Linked DNA regions of Homo sapiens: region 1 is reported to be linked to region 2. The links are microRNA targets in miRTarBase. Many come from high-throughput screens and were not tested one by one. Region 2 holds a microRNA gene; the other region holds the end of a gene's coding sequence.

Region 1 (5,382 bases), not on the chromosome of region 2:
TTGAAGGTAGACGCATCGAATTTGCAGAACAAATAAATAAAATGGAGGCTAGGCCTAGAAGACAATCAATGAAGGAAAAAGAGCATCAGGTGGTGCGTAATGAAGAACAGAAGGCGGAACAAGAAGAGGGTAAGGTGGCTCAGCGAGAGGAAGAGTTGGAGGAGACAGGTAATCAGCACAATGATGTAGAAATAGAGGAAGCAGGAGAGGAAGAGGAAAAGGAAATAGCGATTGTTCATAGTGATGCAGAGAAAGAACAGGAGGAGGAAGAACAAAAACAGGAAATGGAGGTTAAGATGGAGGAGGAAACTGAGGTAAGGGAAAGTGAGAAGCAGCAGGATAGTCAGCCTGAAGAAGTTATGGATGTGCTAGAGATGGTTGAGAATGTCAAACATGTAATTGCTGACCAGGAGGTAATGGAAACTAATCGAGTTGAAAGTGTAGAACCTTCAGAAAATGAAGCTAGCAAAGAATTGGAACCAGAAATGGAATTTGAAATTGAGCCAGATAAAGAATGTAAAACCCTTTCTCCTGGGAAAGAGAATGTCAGTGCTTTAGACATGGAAAAGGAGTCTGAGGAAAAAGAAGAAAAAGAATCTGAGCCCCAACCTGAGCCTGTGGCTCAACCTCAGCCTCAGTCTCAGCCCCAGCTTCAGCTTCAATCCCAGTCCCAACCAGTACTCCAGTCCCAGCCTCCCTCTCAGCCTGAGGATTTGTCATTAGCTGTTTTACAGCCAACACCCCAAGTTACTCAGGAGCAAGGGCATTTACTACCTGAGAGGAAGGATTTTCCTGTAGAGTCTGTAAAACTCACTGAGGTACCAGTAGAGCCAGTCTTGACAGTACATCCAGAGAGCAAGAGCAAAACCAAAACTAGGAGCAGAAGTAGAGGTCGAGCTAGAAATAAAACAAGCAAGAGTAGAAGTCGAAGCAGTAGCAGTAGCAGTTCTAGTAGCAGTTCAACCAGTAGCAGCAGTGGAAGTAGTTCCAGCAGTGGAAGTAGTAGCAGTCGCAGTAGTTCCAGTAGCAGCTCCAGTACAAGTGGCAGCAGCAGCAGAGATAGTAGCAGTAGCACTAGTAGTAGTAGTGAGAGTAGAAGTCGGAGTAGGGGCCGGGGACATAATAGAGATAGAAAGCACAGAAGGAGCGTGGATCGGAAGAGAAGGGATACTTCAGGACTAGAAAGAAGTCACAAATCTTCAAAAGGTGGTAGTAGTAGAGATACAAAAGGATCAAAGGATAAGAATTCCCGGTCCGACAGAAAGAGGTCTATATCAGAGAGTAGTCGATCAGGCAAAAGATCTTCAAGAAGTGAAAGAGACCGAAAATCAGACAGGAAAGACAAAAGGCGTTAATGGAAGAAGCCAGGCTTTCTTAGCCATTCTTTGCAGCAGAAGATTTCTTGATAAAAAAGGATTACCTTTCCTTGTAAAGAGGATGCTGCCTTAAGAATTGCATGTTGTAAAAAATCTTTTTGGAAAATACAGACTGTTTGTTTACCAGACATTCTTGTACTTTTTGCATAATTTTGTAAGAGTTATTTATCAAAATTATGTGAGGTTCCAAAATATGTAAAAATGATAATAATAAAAAAAGATTAACATCCCTTGTCATCTTTTTTAAATATCCTATACTCTTCAGTAAGAATCTGTATATTTTAATAGGCAAATCTTTAAGTCTGTTCCCTTCTAATTCTGTATCATACATTGCTTTTGTAGAAATAAATGTGTGTTTATTTCATTATTTTTGGGATGTCCTCGTTGACACTTGTATAATAAATATCCTCTTTATCATTTTCAGCTTTTAACACTAGATACTGCACGTGATTAGAATGTTTTTGAAGGTTTCCTCGTTTTTATTTGCCTTGGACAGTTTTTAGTTGTCAGAGTCAGAGCTTTGCAGCTTTGAGGGGGAACAGTTCTCTTTAAAATCATTTGCTATTTTCTATTCTCCCTTGTTATTTTAATCTAAGCATTTTCCCCCGTTTCTCATATTTTAACCATATGTTCGGTAGATAACTAAACAGTATGATCTGGTTGGCATTTTCTTCCTGATGATGGGAGCGTCATTCTTTTGTCTTCATGGTTACTTGTGTGATATAACATACATCTGTTAAAGAAAATCACTTCTTTCTAGGGGAGGGAGGTAGAAAAGTATCTTTCAAACTTGGTTTTTGAGTTTGTGTCTTGTCTTAACTTTGTGTTGGCTCTAACTTAAACATGCTGATATGTGTTTTCAAGAATTTTGTTTAAGGAAGTATTGTATGGAAGTCCACAAAATGAAGGAAGTTCATCTAGGTTTTAATATGTAAGCAAGATAACACACAAGTGTACCAAGTGATTATTAACTTTGTTGTTTTACAAATTTGTATGAACTTGGAGTATCTGTTGGCCATTACTATACATGTGCAAATAAATGTGGCTTAGACTTGTGTGACTGCTTAAGACTAGTACTTGTATTAACTTTCTGATGCTTTATACAAGAGAGCACTTAAATTGCATCCTTCTTTGAGTTTAACACTGTAGCTTTAGCCTTGACTTTGAATATTCATTTTGCCTTCCCTTGACAAGTAAATGGTTACAGTGAAAATGTGAAGAAGTATTTCCAGTTAGTTTTTGTGTGTATATAACTCACTTGTGTAAGTGGATGTGTTAAAAGATCTCTTTTTAAAAATCCTTTTATTGGAGTAATTATTAAAACAGTAAATGCATAGAGCTTTGCACAGCAATCTGTATCCATGAGCCAGTTCCACCACTAGTACCTTCATCTGTGGCTTATCCAGCAAAATGTTTCATTTCCTGTGTGCCCTGGCAGGAAAGAGGTTGGTAAATAGTGAATTAAAGGGATGATCATAAAATTTAACCTGGTTAAAAAGCACCTTATTTGATGACAGTTTGTATGCACTAAAATCCTTTATACAAATTAAGTTTTGTCTACTGATTTGTACCTGGAAAATCTGAACAATATTCATGTTGCTTACAGAAAAGGCTAGTATTGGCTTGAAGCTCTACTATAGGAGGGGTAGTAATGGGGGTATAATGAATGCTTGAGGGGAAAGTAATTTTCAGTAATTTCAGTTAAGCGCTACTGATCATAGTATGTGAAAGGAATTTTTCTTATATGGAATGCTTGATGAATTTGCATGTCATCCTTGTGCAGGGGCCATTTTAATCTTTTTTTTTTTTTTTTTTTTTCTCGGAGACAGGGTCTTAGTCTGTCACCCAGGCTGGAGTGCAGTGGCACAAACAATCTGACTGCAGCCTCGACCTCCTGGGTTCAAGGGATCCTCCCACCTCAGCCTACCAAGTACCTGGGACTACAGGTGTGCACCACCATTCCCAGTTAATTTTTTATTTTTTGTAGAGACAGGATCTCACTATGTTGCCCAGGCTGGTCTCGAACTCCTGGGCTCAAGCGTTACTCCTGCCTTGGCCTCTGAAAGTGCTGGGATTACAGGCGTGAGCCACCACTCTTGGTCTGTGTTCCAATTTTAGTATGTGCTGCTGAAGTGAGCACAGGAATTTTAATAACAGATTGTACTAACATTTTTAAGTGGTATTCATTTTTAGGTTGGAAGGTTTAATTTTTTAAATATAGTATTTTAGATTTTTTTGTTTCCGATCAGTGCTTTATCCTTGAACTAAAATTTTATGGAACTTAATGTTCAGAGAACCATGGAATTGCACTTGAAGAGACACAAGGAAGAAGAATGTAAAAGTAATGACAGTTTCCCAGGGGGAAAAGACATGCAGTAGTCTTTTTTTTTTTTTTTTTTTTTGAGATGGAGTCTCGTTCTGTCACCCAGGCTGGAGTGCAGTGGTGCGATCTCGGCTCACTGCAACCTCCGCCTCCCAGCTTCATGCAATTCTGCCTCAGCCTTCCAAGTAGCTGGGATTACAGGCGCACACCACCACACCTGGCTAATTTTTTTTTTTTTTTTTTTTTTTGTATTTTTAGTAGAGTTGGGGGTTTCACTGTGTTGGCCAGACTGGTCTCGAACTCCTGACATCGTGATCCGCCTGCCTTGGCCTCCCAAAGTGCTGGGATTACAGGCATGAGCCACGGCGCCCGGCTAACACGCAGTAGTCTTCCTACTGGAGATTACAAATTAGTGTTTATGGTTGAGTGCAGTGGCCTGTAATTCCCAACACTTTGGGAGGCTGAGGTGGAAAGATTGCTTGAGCCCAGGAGCCAGAGACCAACCTCGGCAACATGGCAAAAAACTGTCTACGAAGAGAAAAACTAGCCGATTGTGGTGGCATGAGCCTGAGTCCCAGCTACTCTGGAGGCTGAGACAGGAGGATTGCTTGAGCCCAGGAGGTTGAGGTGAAGTAGCTATGATCACACTACTGCACTCCAGCCTGGGTGACAGAGTGAGACCCTGTCTAAAAAATAACAAAAAAACCCAAATAGTGTTTATGGAAAACTTAGGAGCTGAAAGGGGATAGAGATGGTGAGTTAGGACTGAAATCAGTTTAGAGCTGTATTAGGAAAGACAGGCTGGGTGCTATGGCTCACACCTGTAATCCCAGCAATTTGGGAGGCTGAGGGTAGAGGATGGATGGCTTGAAGCCAGGAGTTCAAGACTGACCTGGGCATCAGCAAGAATCTATCTCTACAAAAAATAGAAAAATTTAGCCATGTGTGTACCTGTAGTTCTAGTTACTTCGGGGGCTGAGGTGGGAGGATTGCTTGAACCCAGGAGTTTGAGGTTATAGTGAGCTTTGATGGCACCACTGCACTCCATACTGGTGACAGACTGTCTAAAAAAAAAATTGGCAGAGATGTCTAAGGGGCTATTAAGGAAACATCTTTTAAGATACCAAGGTTTGGGTAACCACCAAAATAAAGATAGTTTGAACTTCAATGAGCTGTATTTCCAATCTAGGGTCCTTCTACACACTATCTGTAGAATGATAACAATTTACATGATTACTCAGGTAATTTGGGCAAAGCAAAAGCCACCATACCAATAATGTATTGACATAAATTCAAAAGGAAAGAGAGTAGTGATTACATGGGCCAATGCTATTAGAGTCAGTCAAGATGTGGGTTTAAAGTACATAAACAAGAATTTCTTTTATGGCTAATATTGTGTAAGAATTTTTTTATGACTAGTCAAACTTTAAAATATCTTCTGAAATCCAACGACAAATCCAACCCATTTTCCCTTTTTGAGGTTAAAATGAATGTTATTAAATCACATAGCCCAGAAAATGTAGCTATGTATTTGATTCAATACCACTACTCTAGTAAGCCAGTGGGGTAGAGACTACAACTTGGTAAAAATAAACGAGGTATCTGAGAATGTTTTTCTTACGCCTGTCTTTGTCTCAGCTAGCAGGACTTTTTTTTTTTTTTCTTTTTTTAAATAGAGATGAG
Region 2 (5,382 bases):
TCCCTGGAAGACACGGTGACCTTCACCCAGTGGGAAGAGGTGGGACTGCATTCCCCCATGACCTTTCCGGACCCAGAGTGGCCGTGGGCTGCCAGGGACTCACCTGGCTGGGCTCAGCAGGTGCTCCTCACGCGGGCAGGTGCTTCCAGGTGCTGACAAAGGCCGTGGGGATAAGTGAGTAGGGCACTGTGGTGATGCAGTTCCATGTATCTGAAGTGGGGTCATAGCAGTCCAGAGTCTTACACCTCTGGGTCCCAAAGTAGCCCCCGACCACATAGAGCTTGTTGCCGGAAGCCAGGGCATGGCAGGACATGCGCTTGGCAGTCATGTCCCCAATCCGCGTCCACTGGTTGGTCTCACAGTCAAAGCGGTAGGCCGAGGCGGCTGTGAATTCCGTGTCACCTCCCATGATGAAGATCTGGCTGCCCAGGACGGCAGCGGCTGTGTACCGCCAAGGCTGGGGGCACTCGGCCTTGATCGTCCACCTGTTCTCCGAGGGGTCATAGCACTGGACCTTGGACACCATGTCCCGGTGGATGCTGGTTCCTCCGAAAACAAAGAGCTTCAGCTTGGCACTCACCACTGCGGCATTGCTGACGCCATCCCGCAAGGGGGCCACCATCATCCACTTGTTGGCCCCAGGGTCGTATTTCTCCACTTGTTTCAGGGAGACAGAAGGCGAGGCCGGGAAGACCCCTGCCAGGGATGTGTGTCCCCCCACCACATAGAGGCAGTTCTCCAGCTCAGCTGAGCCATGGCCAAAGCGGGCAATCAGCATGGGCGCCGCCTTGGACCATTCCTCATGTACGGTGTCGTACACCCAGACATCCTTGGAGACCCCGTTCTCGGAGCCCCTGCCCCCCGTCACATAGACCTTGCAGCCGATCGCTGAGGCGCTGAACTCCTTCCGGGGGCTGGGCAGGTCGGCCTTGGGGATGATCTCCTTGGCCTTGTGGTCCACCTGGTAGATCTTGTCACACATGAAGGTCTGGCCCCCCAGGATGAGTAGCGTGTGGCCCGCCTTGCGTGGCCGGGCACAGGGGCTGGTGACCACGCCATCATTCTGCAGGATCCTGGTCTTGCAGCGCAGGGCCTCATCCATGATAAGCTTGGTGCGCTCGTCTGCCATGAGGAGGGCCTCGCTGGAGACGGCCTCCTGCAGGCAGTCGGACGGCAGCAAGGCCAGACGCACGCTGCGGAGGAGCTCGGGCAAGTGGACCTTCCGTGGCTCCAGGTCGTGCTTCACCCACTGGAGGATGGCCTCGAAGACCACCCGCTCGTCCTCGGTCTCCAGCTCATCACTCGAGATGAGGTCCAGCAGTGTGTCCTTGGACAGGCTGTTGAAGTCCTCGCTCTGCCTCACCGTCTCAAAGTGCACCAGGCACATGCGCCAGGAGAACTCATACAGCCGGCGGCACTGGTGGGCGTCCGAGAGCAGCATCATGCCCAGGCAGTTGGAGGGGAAAAGGTTCTTCTCCAGGAACTCGGCGGCAGCATCCCGCACATCGTGGAACTGCAGCATGTCGCCTGCCTCCAGCAGTGACTCAGCGTTCTCCTCGTTGATGGCGATGCGTGAGGAGTAGGCAAAGTCCAGCAGCAGCTCCAGCACCTCCGGGTGCAGGTTGTCCTGGAAGTTGACAGTGTCATCCCGGCTCTCCCGAAGGCCATGGCTGAACATGGCCTCAAAATAGCGGCTAGAGGCGGCCAGCACGGCACGGTGACAGGGGAAGGCACGGTCGCCCGCCCAGAGTGTGACGTCGGTGAACATGCAGTGCTTGCGAAGCGTGTTGAGGTGGGCCAGCACACAGTCCGGGTGGGAGGCCTTGTGGAAGAGGGTGACGTTCATGGACCCCGTGCTGCTCCGCGACTTGCGGGTCTCATGGACACTGACCGACATGGTGCGTCAGCTTGTGGGGGAACAAGCCCACAGGTTAGAGGAGCCCCTCCTGCCCATCTGCCCTCTCAGGGCTCACTCTTCAGCACAAGCCCCCTTGTCCCCTCCCACCCACTCTCTGCTCACCTCTGCTAAACCAAGCCCCTCTCCCGCAACCACGTTGCCAAGGACAACACAGGCAAGAGTGGCTGGGTCTCACCCTGCCCTGCAGAAACTGGTTTTGTTCTCAGGGTATGAGCCAGCTCTGGGACAAACATCTCTGGCCTGCAGATGAGCCACCCCCTAGGCAAGCTCCAGTTGAGGCTGCCTCCCATGGTTAAGAGAACATGCAAACGGTGTTCCTGACTGAGGCTGGTGTCCGGGCAGTGCTAAGTAACTGGTGCCTTTGACCACATTCCACTCTCATGACAGTCCTCTACAGAAGCTTCTCTTGTAAGTCCCATTTTAGAGCTAGGGAAGCCACAGCTCAGAGAGGCCAAGAAACTACCCAAACTGCCACAGCCAGGATTCTCACATGGGCTGTCCGGCTCTGGAGCCTGATCTCTGTTCAAGGTGACTAATCCCTGCAGGGTTTGCTGTGGACGCCCAAGCAGAGCCTCACGTACCCACTTCCCTGCTCCCAGCAGGCTCTGCCCTGGGCCGGGCTCCAAGCGGTACTGGCTAGACATCCCCCTTGCCTTGGAACAAGAGCCGCCATCAAGGCCCAAGTGCTCAGTGGAGACATGTTCTCTGAATCCAGGTGTCTCCACAGGGCTCTTTACCTAGCTGGGGCAAGTGATGGCTTGGAGGTGGGGCCGCCAGTGACTCACCCTCGAGACCAACGCAGAGGCCCAAGATGACAGCAGGACATGCCGAACCCTAACGGAAGTGATCCAGATTTGCCTCAGCAAAGCAGAGAAACACGAAGCCAGAGCTTCCCAGGTCCCCCAGCTGACGCCAGGATCCTGGGCCAACGCAGCGCCTCCCCTGCCTCCCTTGCCTGCCCTTCTCCACCAGGCCTGGGGACCTGGCGCTCAGAGTGATGGAGTGATGGCCAAGAAACAGGTTCACTACTTGCTCAATCTAGGGGAATTCTAAAGCACTGTCATTAATGTCCAGTGAATGGCATGACCCGAGGCCCCAGTTCAGTACTTTGAACTCAAGGCTCAGCCAACAGGCGGCAAAACTCATATACCTAGAGAAAACATGGCCAACACCCTTGAGGCCATCTCGAAGACCACAGCTACCTGCCCCACTGACCTGTGGAAGGAGACTGTATTCACCAAGTCTCCCGATCAGGAATTCACTGACCACCTTGTCAAGACCCTCACCAGAGTCTCCATGCAGAGGACCTACGCTCCAGCTGTGGCTACAACAGGGTTTTTATACAAGAAAAATAAAGTGAATTAAGCCTGAAAAAAAAAAAAAAAAGAAAGAAAAGAAAACATGGCCAAAAAGCAAACTGCATTCCAGTATCTTGACCCCCTAAAAGCCTGTGCTGCTGTCTTCCTGCTGGTAATGGGGCCAAGAAAAACAAAAAACCCTAAACAACAAAGTTTTTCATTTTTAATTTTCAAAAGTATGTAACTCTCCTGCCGCCTCCCACTCCAAGTCAATTTTCTACTTAGGTAATAATCTGGTAAAGGTAGGAAACGATTTCATGCTTCAGTGAAATTGTAAATGAGTGTCCGGCTACATGGCTCTCTCTTGCTCACTCCTCCTCTGGAAAAGAGGCAGAGAAGCCACAAACTGACGAGATTAGAGCTAGCAAGGTCCCTGCTTTTGGGCTTAGGCAGAGAGGGCACAGGGCCAGACTGGCCTTGCTGCTTGGACCCCCAAGCTCCAGGTAGACTGTACACCGAGGACCTGCCTAAGACACTGCTGTCCAAACCTGCAGCCCACAGTCCACAGGGCTCCGAGGCTATATGAGGTTAGCCCTTCTGGGGGTTGGGGTGAGAGCACTGGACGCAGATCCAGGCTGTATCCTGGCTCCACCTCCATCCTGTACCTCACTATTATTTTCTTGTAAAGTGAGATCCCCATCCTACTCAGGCCTCCACAACTCACTTGTTGGCAACTATTTCCTGAGCACATCCTCGAAGCTGGGCCCTCAGATGCAGTGGCACGGAGCCTGAGAGACTGCGCTGACCGGGTCTGAGGGAAGCTTTGCCAACAGCCTGGCCCGTGACTGATCGGAATTGCCTAATCTGAATTCCAGACCCTGCGACATTTCCCCAAATCTTGCTGTGATTGCTAAACTCTCACTCCAGTTTCCTCACTCCAGACCACCCCCTTGGTGATCAGACAATTTCCCAAATGTGGCTCTGTCCCCTCCTGCCCCACCCCACAGTGTCAGGACATTTTAAGAGGCATTTGTTGCCTCTGGTCTGCAGACCGTGCTGGGGGAAACGTGGAGAGCCAAGGACCAGGAAGAATTCTAGTTCGAGCCCTGGGACTCCTAAGCCCATGCCCTCTCCACTGAGGTCACGTTCAAGGGCCCTGATGCTGAGGTTTGGCTTCAGTTCCATTGTCAACACACTTGTGCTTCCAAGGACCTCCCTGCTCTAGGTCCCTAGGCACCTCATCGCACCTGCCCCCTGCCCCACCCTGGCCCTGCCAGAGGGGAGGCTGGTTCTGAGCTTGGGCTGAACGGCAGCTTGAATGCCTGGGCTTGGACACTCCAAGTGTGGGGTGAGCCCCTCTGGGATTCTTCTTACAGACAGCCCCAGCTGGAATCCCAGCTCCTCACCTTAGTAACTACGGCCCTGGAACCAACACACCTAGAACTAACTCCACTCTGGGGCACTGTGTTAACTGGGCTGCCTGCGAGAGTACCCAGGCAGAGACTCCCTTTGGAGGGGGTTATGGGCAGGACAAAGCAAGACTCAAAAGACCGAGAAAGCCAAAAAGCAGGGCAAATTGAAACAGGGCAGCCACAATGGTCCAGAGAAGGAGGCAGAGCAGTGACCTCTCCAAGCCAACAGTGAGCGGCAACCCAGGGTCCCAGAGCTGACAGATACCCTGCCAAAGTCGGCACCAAGAATGCCTGCCTGCTGATGCAGATGCTGGCAACTCATGTACACGCCCAGGCAGGTTCCCACCCCCTAGACAGCCGCCAGCCTGGGGCACCTCTGTGCCAAGGGCGGAAGCACCTGCCTAGTTGTTTCCCCGGTTTGTCCCATCTCCTTCTGGGCAGCGCCTGCCCCTGAGCCAATCTTCCACTGATGGCAGCCACTCACTCACCGACTCAGCCTGATCCCAAGTGAGGCACTGGAGCCCCACTTTACAGGCAAGGATGCTGAGGCCCACACAGCTTCTGGGCATGTTATTTGTGTACTGTCTCCCAAACTGCACAGGAGGCCCAGAAAGGCAGGGACCATGTGTGGGGCTCACTGATGTGACCTCAACACCCAGGACAGATCCCGGCACAGAGGTCACTTGACTTGATGGCATGGACCTGTCCATCTCTTCCTATGCCCATGATGAAGCCCTGAGACACAGCACACGAA

What was found. The annotated mature microRNA hsa-miR-1276 reads UAAAGAGCCCUGUGGAGACA and lies in region 2 at 2,635-2,654, opposite strand. An mRNA with a match to its seed (bases 2 to 7 or 8) in the 3' UTR can be bound and repressed. Matches are read on the target gene's strand: a 7mer-m8 pairs with bases 2 to 8, a 7mer-A1 pairs with bases 2 to 7 and ends in A, and an 8mer does both.
Region 1: the mRNA of PNN is a reported target of hsa-miR-1276. Seed matches in the 3' UTR shown: 7mer-A1 at 1,784-1,790 and 7mer-A1 at 1,921-1,927.

The regions. Positions count from the first base shown.
Region 1 is chr14:39,180,509-39,185,890 of GRCh38, forward strand. PNN (pinin, desmosome associated protein) reads left to right here. Exons shown (of 9, transcript NM_002687.4): 9 at 1-2,712. The coding sequence ends at 1,355. Among named protein-coding and RNA genes, the nearest start is that of PNN-AS1, 7.3 kb to the left of the region's middle.
Region 2 is chr15:85,767,914-85,773,295 of GRCh38, forward strand. It overlaps MIR1276 (microRNA 1276), which reads right to left and starts at 2,665; the gene lies at 2,583-2,665. It overlaps KLHL25 (kelch like family member 25), which reads right to left. Exons shown (of 3, transcript NM_022480.4): 2 at 104-1,907. The coding sequence starts at 1,897. The coding sequence ends at 128. RefSeq lists enhancers at 1-647, 648-1,421, 1,422-2,196, 2,197-2,969.